2 separate regions of the Homo sapiens genome follow, and region 1 is linked to region 2. Evidence: fine-mapped expression QTL. A gene starts in region 2. The other region holds a variant in brackets. All regions are shown on one strand. Distances are from middle to middle.

The links. PIP is the estimated chance that this variant, and not a neighbour inherited with it, causes the effect.
Region 1: its variant is the best candidate, but not a certain one, in a credible set for the expression of LINC02798 in adrenal gland (GTEx, PIP 0.88).

What each region holds. Positions count from the first base shown.
Region 1 is chr1:120,488,260-120,492,644 of GRCh38, reverse strand. It overlaps the pseudogene PDE4DIPP2. Among named protein-coding and RNA genes, the nearest start is that of NBPF8, 75 kb to the right of the region's middle. The variant G/A (reference allele first, on the strand shown) is at 2,165.
Region 2 is chr1:121,393,572-121,397,956 of GRCh38, reverse strand. It overlaps LINC02798 (long intergenic non-protein coding RNA 2798), which reads right to left and starts at 2,385. Exons shown (of 2, transcript XM_047438024.1): 1 at 653-2,385. The coding sequence starts at 2,073. The coding sequence ends at 1,030. SRGAP2-AS1 (SRGAP2 antisense RNA 1) reads left to right here and starts at 52. Exons shown (of 4, transcript NR_104189.1): 1 at 52-194; 2 at 291-476. RefSeq lists a silencer at 2,014-2,308.

The sequences.
Region 1 (4,385 bases), 910 kb after region 2:
AGAGCTCAGGCTAACTCTGATTGGCAGACCCTCGTGTAGGCAGGTTTCAGGATCCCCTCCCCAGGGATTCTACTTCCAGGTCAATGGCACCAATACCTTTTGGATCCAACTATGCTAATTCCAGGGAGAGGGTGTTGTGCCATCTTCATGTTGGCACAAATATTTACAAACTTGCAGACTTCCCTGAGTCCAGATCTCTCTCCCCAGCATAACACTTCTGAACTCTCAATCTTACCTGTGAAGGGAGAGTGACAGAACTGATATCAGGACTAAAGCAAGGTCCTCTTCAGAGTTGGGAGTTTTAAACCAGCCTGAAGCAAGTTTCTCTTAAGCTACAGGTGTGTGGGCCTGTGCTAGTCTGCATGGGGAATTCCAGAGTCTCAATATTCCTACCTAATGGCCTCATCCTGAACTGTCCTCAGCTGGAGATATCCAAGGCTGTGAAGGAGGAAATCCAGTTCAAGAGAGTTGAGAAGACTGTAGAATCCTTCTTTGAATTGGAAAGAGCCACAAAGCACAGGGTGCTTTAGGCCTTCTGCCTGGTCAGTAAGAGTCTGTTCCTCTTATCCAGGGAGAATCAACAGAAAGGGAACTTCTGGAACTGAGAACCAAAGTATCCAAACAGGAGCAGCTCCTTCAGAGCACAACTGAGCATCTGAAGAATGCCAACCAGCAGAAGGAGAGCATGGAACAGTTCATTGTCAGCCAGCGTAGGTTCCCTGAGAGGGAACGGGGGCAGAAACAGGCAGTCTTCCCGATGCCCCACTTGTGCTTCAGATGAGAAGTGATCAGGGGGGCTTGGGGATGTTGGGAGTGGAGACTGATTTGATGTCCCCAAACCTCCTGTGCCAGGAGCAATTGTGGCTGCAGAGGGAGGGGAGGACAGGGGGTGGATAGAAGGAGACTCCAAGCTGAATAGCCAGAAAGAAATAAATGCTTTAGAATTCTCACGCTAAGCAAGTAGGGTTAATTTCTGCTGGTGGTTTCTACTCTGTGGTGCTCTTTTGTTGTTTCAGTAACCAGAACACATGATGTTTTAAAGAAGGCAAGGACTAACTTAGAGGTAAGGAAACTACTGCACCAGTCAGAGGCACCAAGCCTGTCCCCCACCCATCACCATCCGTTAGCAGATCTTGTAGGTGACTCTTGGCCTGCTTTGGCCTTCCAGGAGAAGATTTGGGGTCCACTTGCAAGATCACAGGTCCTCAGTGAGCATCCTGCTAGTTTCTGTCCCTATCACCCTCCCACCCCGTCAGCTCCTGCCCCTGTATCTTGGTTCACTCTCACATTGTCATCATCTCTCCTTTTTACTCCAATTTTTCTTCTTTGAGGCCAAGTTCAGAGACTGGAGAAATGCAATTCAGCTGACTCTTGAAGTCATTAGACATTCGGGAGTCTGCCTCTGAATGAGCTTCTAGTAGAGGGATCTTGAGGCCAGTTATGTGTTCTACTCTTCATGAAAAAGTAAAAGCAATTTGCAACCTAATAAACTGATTTCACTGCACATTCCCGGGTTAAGAACAGCGATTTGATTTTGCTGTATCTTTAAGTAACATGACAAAAGAGATCTGTTGGGTCTCATTGGTCTAAAAGCAAATTTGTTAATAAATAACAACTGAACCTTCAGGGAAAAAATGTTATATATGTACCAGACATTATCTACATTTACTTAAAACACTAAGTGTTAATCATTCCCTAGGAAGTGCTTTGAAGAAAAACTTGAGGTATATGAAATGGTTAAAAATCAGAAACTAAACCTTTTAACATGGACATCAAAGCTTTGCCATAAGCAATTCAGCATATTCCTAGAAATGTTTCTAATCCATAACCTGAGAGAATGTTGATCTCCATAGTGTGAAAATGACTTGGGCCAGTTTAACTTGCTCTTTTTTTTATTTTTTCACTAATTCCCTTTTGTTTTTCTCTGATAATTCTTCTCTTTCCTGAGCCTCTTTAGAGCAGCACTTACAGGATTGCCTCTGTAAAGCCTTATTCCTGTCCCAGAAAAGGTAACCCAAAAAGTCTCTAGTATCCACTAAAAGGTAACCCAAAAATCTCTAGTATCCACTGGCTTTCTCCAGTGTGGAAGCTTTCCCCTCCACCTCCCATAGATCACTGGAAAGGACCCGAGGCCTCGGTTCTAATCCCTGGCTTATCACTAACT[G/A]CTGTGTGGCTTTGGCTTGTCCCTTAGTCTCTGTGAGACTGCTGCACCCTCATCTGTCAAAGATGGAACTGAACTTAGTTGAGCTCTGAGGTCCCTGTGGACTTGGCCCCTCCACACCCTCATTATGGCAACTGGACATAAACTTAACAGAGGACTTCCCAGCAAAATGTCCTCTTCTTCCTACAAACAGGCTGTTTCTATATGTGCATGTTTCATGCTAAGCACTTCTTTCTTGGGTGGAGATGGCAAAGGCCTCTTTCTGCTGAGACAAAGTGATTTGGAGAGTCACCTGGCCCCTGAAGGGGGAGTGGTAGGATCCAGCCACCCAGTGTGCAGTGAATTGGAGCAGGGATCTCAGCACACAGGGAGGTGGGGAGGCTCCCCCTAACCTCGGGCACCTGTTGCTCCTCCAGACTGCAGCGCATGCTCTTAGCTCATCCTCTTAACTGGCTCTCACCGTGCTCCTGGCTTTGGTCACCACGTAGCTCTCACTCCAGCTTCAGGTAGCCATCAGTAGGACCTGGCAATATACACTGATTTGGTTTGTTTTATGTTTGTCTGCAGGTGAAATCCCTAAGGGCTCTGCCGTGTACTCCAGCCTTGTGACCCTTGCCTTCCAGGAACCATGCAAGAAGCGCAGCCACCAGAAGTCCTTAAAACAGCAGGAAAGGTGAGCCTGTCCCCATTTTGTGCAGCTACCTATCTGCTGAGGAGCATCTGGGCCTCATTCCTCCAAGTCCACTGGAGGGTCCAGAAGAGGGAGTCAGAGATGTATCCTGGTGGAGCTGGGAGAAAGGCAGAAAGCCTTTGTGACAGCTATGGAATACCGTTAGCCAAGGTCCACTTGGCCCAGCACTAAGCAAAAGATGCGTAGTTTGCACAGAAGGTTTTGTGATACTGCCTCTCAACAGCCCCAGCAGCTTGGGAACTAGCAAGAGCACATTTCTTGCCTCATCAGCTGTCCTGAGATGGAAAACTCAGTGGATATAGGACCCTGATTCCGATGAAAGGGGCACGTGGTCCCAATGCTGGAGCTCCTCTGGCAGGTTCTAAAAGCACACTACGGAGCAGCGGTGCCCTGCCGGACACTGCTGGCGGGGGCTCAGTGAGCACTACTCACAGATCCACACCTGACCCTGTTGGGTCGAGTCAGGCTGGGCTTTGGTCTGCACTGTAGCACCTGTGTTCTTTGAGTTCACATCATGAATGTGGTGATTTCCCAGATACCATCTCAGGCTTAACCTAGCACATCCTATTTCTTTTCTTCTATGATATCCAAATTGGACTGACCTCACTTCAAAGTTGCTGTCCCATTTTGTCACCCTATCTTATCTCGGGGAAATTGCAGACTGATGGCCAGACCAACTCTGTTGAAATTCTTGCATAGAGCAAACCTGTGCTCATTTTTAAGTGGCATGGGAGAGGCCCCAAGCCTAGTAAAGCCTAGTCTGTGTCTTCACAGTGCTGGTAGAATGTGTTTGTGTGTATAAATATATGATATAGATTTATATATGTTGCTAACGCCACATATTGAAGGCCAACATAACTGGTGGACAGGGTGGGTGACAGAAAATGAAAGTCTTTTTGGTGATTGTTTAAGCAAGATGTGTATAAAGAAATAAATAGTTTTTCTTTCACTGCTTTGTTTCCCATTTCTGCACCAATCCCTTGACAGTATAAAGAACTGGAAAGAGAAAATGGGAAAGACAAACTGTGTTTAAGAAGCATATAGTCTAATGCTTGAACTCTAACTTTAAAAGATTAAGGTTTTCCTTCTTTGTCATTTTGTAAGAATCCCCAGTCTGAAAATATGAAAGAATGGTTCTTAAACTTGGTGTGCCTGAGAAGCAGCTGTGGAGATTATAGGAGCTACCTCCTGGTCTCCAATCCCAGGAGATTTAGTTGGTGTGAGCCCTAGAATCTGCATTTTTTTAATATAAGCACCCCAGGTGATTCCATTACATGTGGGCTTCAGATCACAGTTTAAAAAAACAGTGTTCTATAACATTGAATCAAAACTAAAACTACATTTAAGAACCTTGAATCAAAAAGTATGTCATTCCATAAACATTGATATAAAAATTTTGAAATATTCCTTGGGAAAAGTTCTTAGCTACATGCTTTTGATTCCCAAGATTAAAATAAGCTATCACTTCACAATTATGTACTAGAAACATTTAAAAAATAAAAACAGGTAGAAGGTGGAGTACGATGGTAGAAT
Region 2 (4,385 bases):
CAAAAAGACCCACCCATGACATACACCAGATGGCTCTCCAAGAATCTCTTCAGTCCTCAGGGTCCCTAACGTACTGGACAGAGCTAGGAAAGCAAACCCATTTGCTTCTTCCTGCAGGAAACCCCTTGAGGTTAAGACCCCACAATCACATGAGGATGGAGTGGCTCACCCTCAGTCAACAGGCCAGACTCAAGGTGGTATAATGTCTTAACCGCGGGTGCGGGCCTCCAGGTCTGACTCCCAACTCAGTTCTTCTTTAATAACCACACTTTGTTAATTTTCCTTAACAGGGGTTCCTGGCAAGTCATTTCTCCCTCGGGCCTTCGGTTTCCTCACCTACAAGATGAGAGGGCTGGACCAGATGGAAATTCAGGGGGTAAGGGGATGTCCTCACGCAGCCCACCCCCACCCCCACGGGACCCTGGAGCCTCCATCCCAGTTCCCACCACGCACCCGCTCCACAAATCCTGCCCAAGGTGAGGGCTGGTCCTGGGTCCTCTGGCTGCCGCATCAGCGAGTGCAGGAGGGAGGGGAAGCCTCCAAGGGGGTGACGTGGGCTCAAAGATGCAACTCGGCCAGGAGTGAACTGGGGCCCCCGAAGGAGGTGTCCGGGCCGCTCCTGGAGCCCAGCCCGGGTCCCCGAACCCCTTACCTCCAGGGTCTGTATCTCCTGCTGGGTGAGGTCGTTAGACACAGCGCACTTGGTGCACAGCCCGCACAGGCTGCCAATGAAGATGACGATGAGCTTCTGGAGCTGCCCGCACTGCTGCAGCGCCCGGCTGGCCGCAGCCCCTGTGCCACCCTCCGTGGCCGCCGCATCACCCCCACCACCGCCCTCCTTCTTCTCTCCCACCGCCTCCACAGGCAGCGCCACTCTATGCAGGCCACAGGGGCCTAGGCAAGGAGCCCGGGGCGCCGGCGCCTAGGCAAAGAATCCCTGAGCCAGGAGAGCTGGACCAGGAGCACCCCTCGGCGCTGCCCTTGCCAGGACGCCAGTAGAGCTGGCAGCCGAGTCTGCCGCTCCTGCCCTCAGAGCCGTGGCGGCGGGGACAAAAATCCTCGGTGGCGGGGGCAAAAAGTCGCGGTGACAAAAAGCGGCGGCGACCGGGGCAAAAAGTCGCGGCAGCAAAAAGCCGCGGCGGCGGGGGCAAAAAGCGGCGGCGACAGCGGCAAAAAGCCGTGGCGGCGGGGGCAAAACGCCGCGGCGGCGAAAAAGTCGCTGCGGCAGGGGGGCAAAAAGCCGTGACAGCGGGGCGCAAAAAGCCGTGGCGGGTAAAAGGCCGTGGCGAGTAAAAAGCCGCGATGGCAAAAAGCTGCGGCGGGCAAAAAGCCACGGCGGCGGTGGGGCAAAAAGCAGCGGCGGTGGCGGAGGGGCAAAAAGCCGCGGCAGCGAGGGGGCAGAAAGCCGCGGCGGCAAAAAGCCAAGGCGACGAGTGTGCAAAAAGCTGTGTCGGTGGTGGGGCAAAAAGCCGCGGCGGTCAAAAAGCCGAGGCAAGGTGGGGGCAAAAAGCCGCGGCGGCGGAGGGGCAAAAAGCCGCGGCGGCGGGTGTGTGGCAGAAAGCCGCGGCGGGCAAAAAGCCGCGGCGGCGAGGGGGGCACAAATCCGCGGCGGGCAAAAAGCCGCGGCGGCGGGGGGTAAAAAGCCGCGGCGGGCAAGAAGCCGAGGCGGGGTGGGGGCAAAAAGTCGCGGCGGCGGGGGGCAAAAAGTCGCGGCGGCAGGGGACAAAAAGCCGCGGCGGGTAAAAAGCCGTGGGGGCAGGGGGGAAAAAGCCACGGCGAGGAAAAAGCCGCGGCGGCGGGGGGGGCAAAAAGCGGCGGGGTGCAAAAAGCGGCGGGGTGCAAAAAGCGGCGGGGGACAAAAAGCCGCGGCGGCAAAATTCGCAGCGGCAAGGGGTCAAAAAGCCGCGGCGGGCTAAAAGCCCTGGCGCCGGGGGGGCACAAAGCAGCGGCGGGCAAAAAGCCGAGGCGGGGTGGGGGGAATAAGCCGCGGCGGCGGGGGGGCAAAAAGCCGTGGCGGCGGCGGTGGAGGGCGAAATAATGGAGATGGAGTGGAAGGCCGGCACAGCTTGGCATTGCTGGAGTGCGATGTGATAGGAAATGAGCAGCCAAAGACAAAAAGATGTAAGTAGGCTTGACTCATTGAAGCTAAGAACCCAGATGTTATCTTGAGGGTATTAACTAATAAGCAGTTTAAATCAGAATGACACATTCTGATTTGTTTCTTGTACGTTCACATTTGGCAGGCATAGATACTGTTTGAAGAGAGAAAAGTCAGTAGAGAGAGGTAACAAACTTAAATATGTGCCAAGTCTAGAAACAAGAGACCAGGGGGATAGGGACCTTTCAAAATAAAATGCAAGATTTGAAAACTGATTGGCTGGGGGATGAGGAAAAGGCAGGTCTTTAAGGTCCATCCCTGTTTTGCTTTAAGTTGTTAGGGGGTGGTTTTATCACATGTTGTAGAATATGTCATTTCAGTTTTGAACATCTTGAGTTAAATTGTCCTAGCATATCTTATGAATTTGATTTTCTTCCCTGGGAAGCTAATATTTCAAACACTTAAAGAGTATATAGATTTCCAACTTGTATCCAGTTTATAAAACTATCTCTAGGCTGCTGATTTCAGGAGGAGGCTTATGAGTATTCTCCTTGCAGAGAATATATCAGGAGTTAACAGCAGCTTCAATATTTGTGGATGACCAGTTAACTAAGCCACCTCTTAGTGTCTTTAGTTGGGAAATCTTAGCTGAAGATATTCAATAATGAACCAAGAGTGACTAAGAAATTCAATATTTAAGTATATTTCATTGTAATTAATTTGAATTGAAGTAGCCATATACAGCTAGTATTTACTATATTGAACAATGCAAATAAGAGGAAAAAATTAATAACCATCTCTAATACCACATGCCAAAATCCTCATCAATTTATTCTAGCTAAAGGAGTTGATCAGAAGCAGTAGTTGAAAGCACCAACTAAACCAGCTGGGGTTAGTTCACTGTCATTCTCTCAGAACCATCTCTCCTCTGAACAAAACAAGTACAAGAGTTCATTGTGAATCTGCATTCTCCTTGCCTATTTTAAGGTTTTGATGTTGACGCAAATTTGTGAAATCCCTCCTGTGGTGTGATATTTCGTTTTCCTTGCTTTGTGTTAGGACAAGAATGCTTCAGCTCTTAATTTAAAATTATGTTTCTCCCTCCTAGGTTGAGTGAACTTAGAATGCATTCTCTGACATATCCAAGATTTTGTTAATATGAATTTCGGGAAAAAAGCATACTTAATTAGCTAAGACGTCTTATTCTAAGCTTGACCCTATGTTCGACATCTTTTGAATTTCTAGTTGCATGGGCTGCTCTCTGACACTGGTTAGTGACCTGGAAGCTCTATTAATGTTAGGGGAGGTGGTGTATGAGCATTAGAGGTATCCTTGCAAGGAAAGACTTGTCTTATCTCAATACGTCTTTTTTTTTTGCACAGAAGAAAGTCAATGTCTGAGTCTTCTAAAATCTTCCTATTTCCAAATTGCAGATTATGATTGATTCCTAAACAAAGACCTAATTTTTGACTCAGAGACGTGGCAAGCTAGTGAATCACCATTATAATTTAACAATCTTCAAGATAAAATTATCTCTGATATTTAGATTTTGCCCAATTATTAAGATATTTGGGTGTTTAGTTAAGAATGGAAAACTCTAGTCTCTTGAGCAGAGACTATAAAGGCCTCAGATGATCATTTTTAATTTTATGCTCTTTTCTTTAACACCTTCAACACAGTTGGAAGCAGCCGATATTCCCCAGAGTTGTTGTGTTTTTTAAACCAAATGCATGGTTCAGTGGTAGAAAACTGGGCTGATCCAAGCTGTTTTCAGTAAACACTTCATTTCAGGTGACCCATTTCATATTAAATAATCTCTAGATCCTGTCTTCGAAACTAACTAGATCAGATAAACTACCCTGGATTTTCTCTTTTTAGGGTCTGAGAGCTGCAGTCACTTTTGTGAAAATGATTACAATGACAAGATAGAGTTGTAGATGGGGAAAATGTTTTGACTAATTTAAGCATAGTGGTATTTCATATGAGAATTTAAGTTACACACATTTGAAAATTATAATGGAGTCTCTTGGCTGAGCTTTAAAAAGAAATAGCGTTTAGGCTAAAAAGGGAACTGCTACCTCTCCTAAAATCAGAAAGATGTTACAGTAATTCTCCATTCTCTAGAATTATCAAGAAGCACCTTTGTGATGATTTACTTTTGCTCTTGCGAGTGTGAGCCCGTGTAGTCGTGGAACCATCAATTAGAATGGTGGCTTTCTGATCCCAAAGTCACTCATTCTGAAAACAATATTTTTCATAAATTTGAAAGTGAGAAGTTTTGATCTTG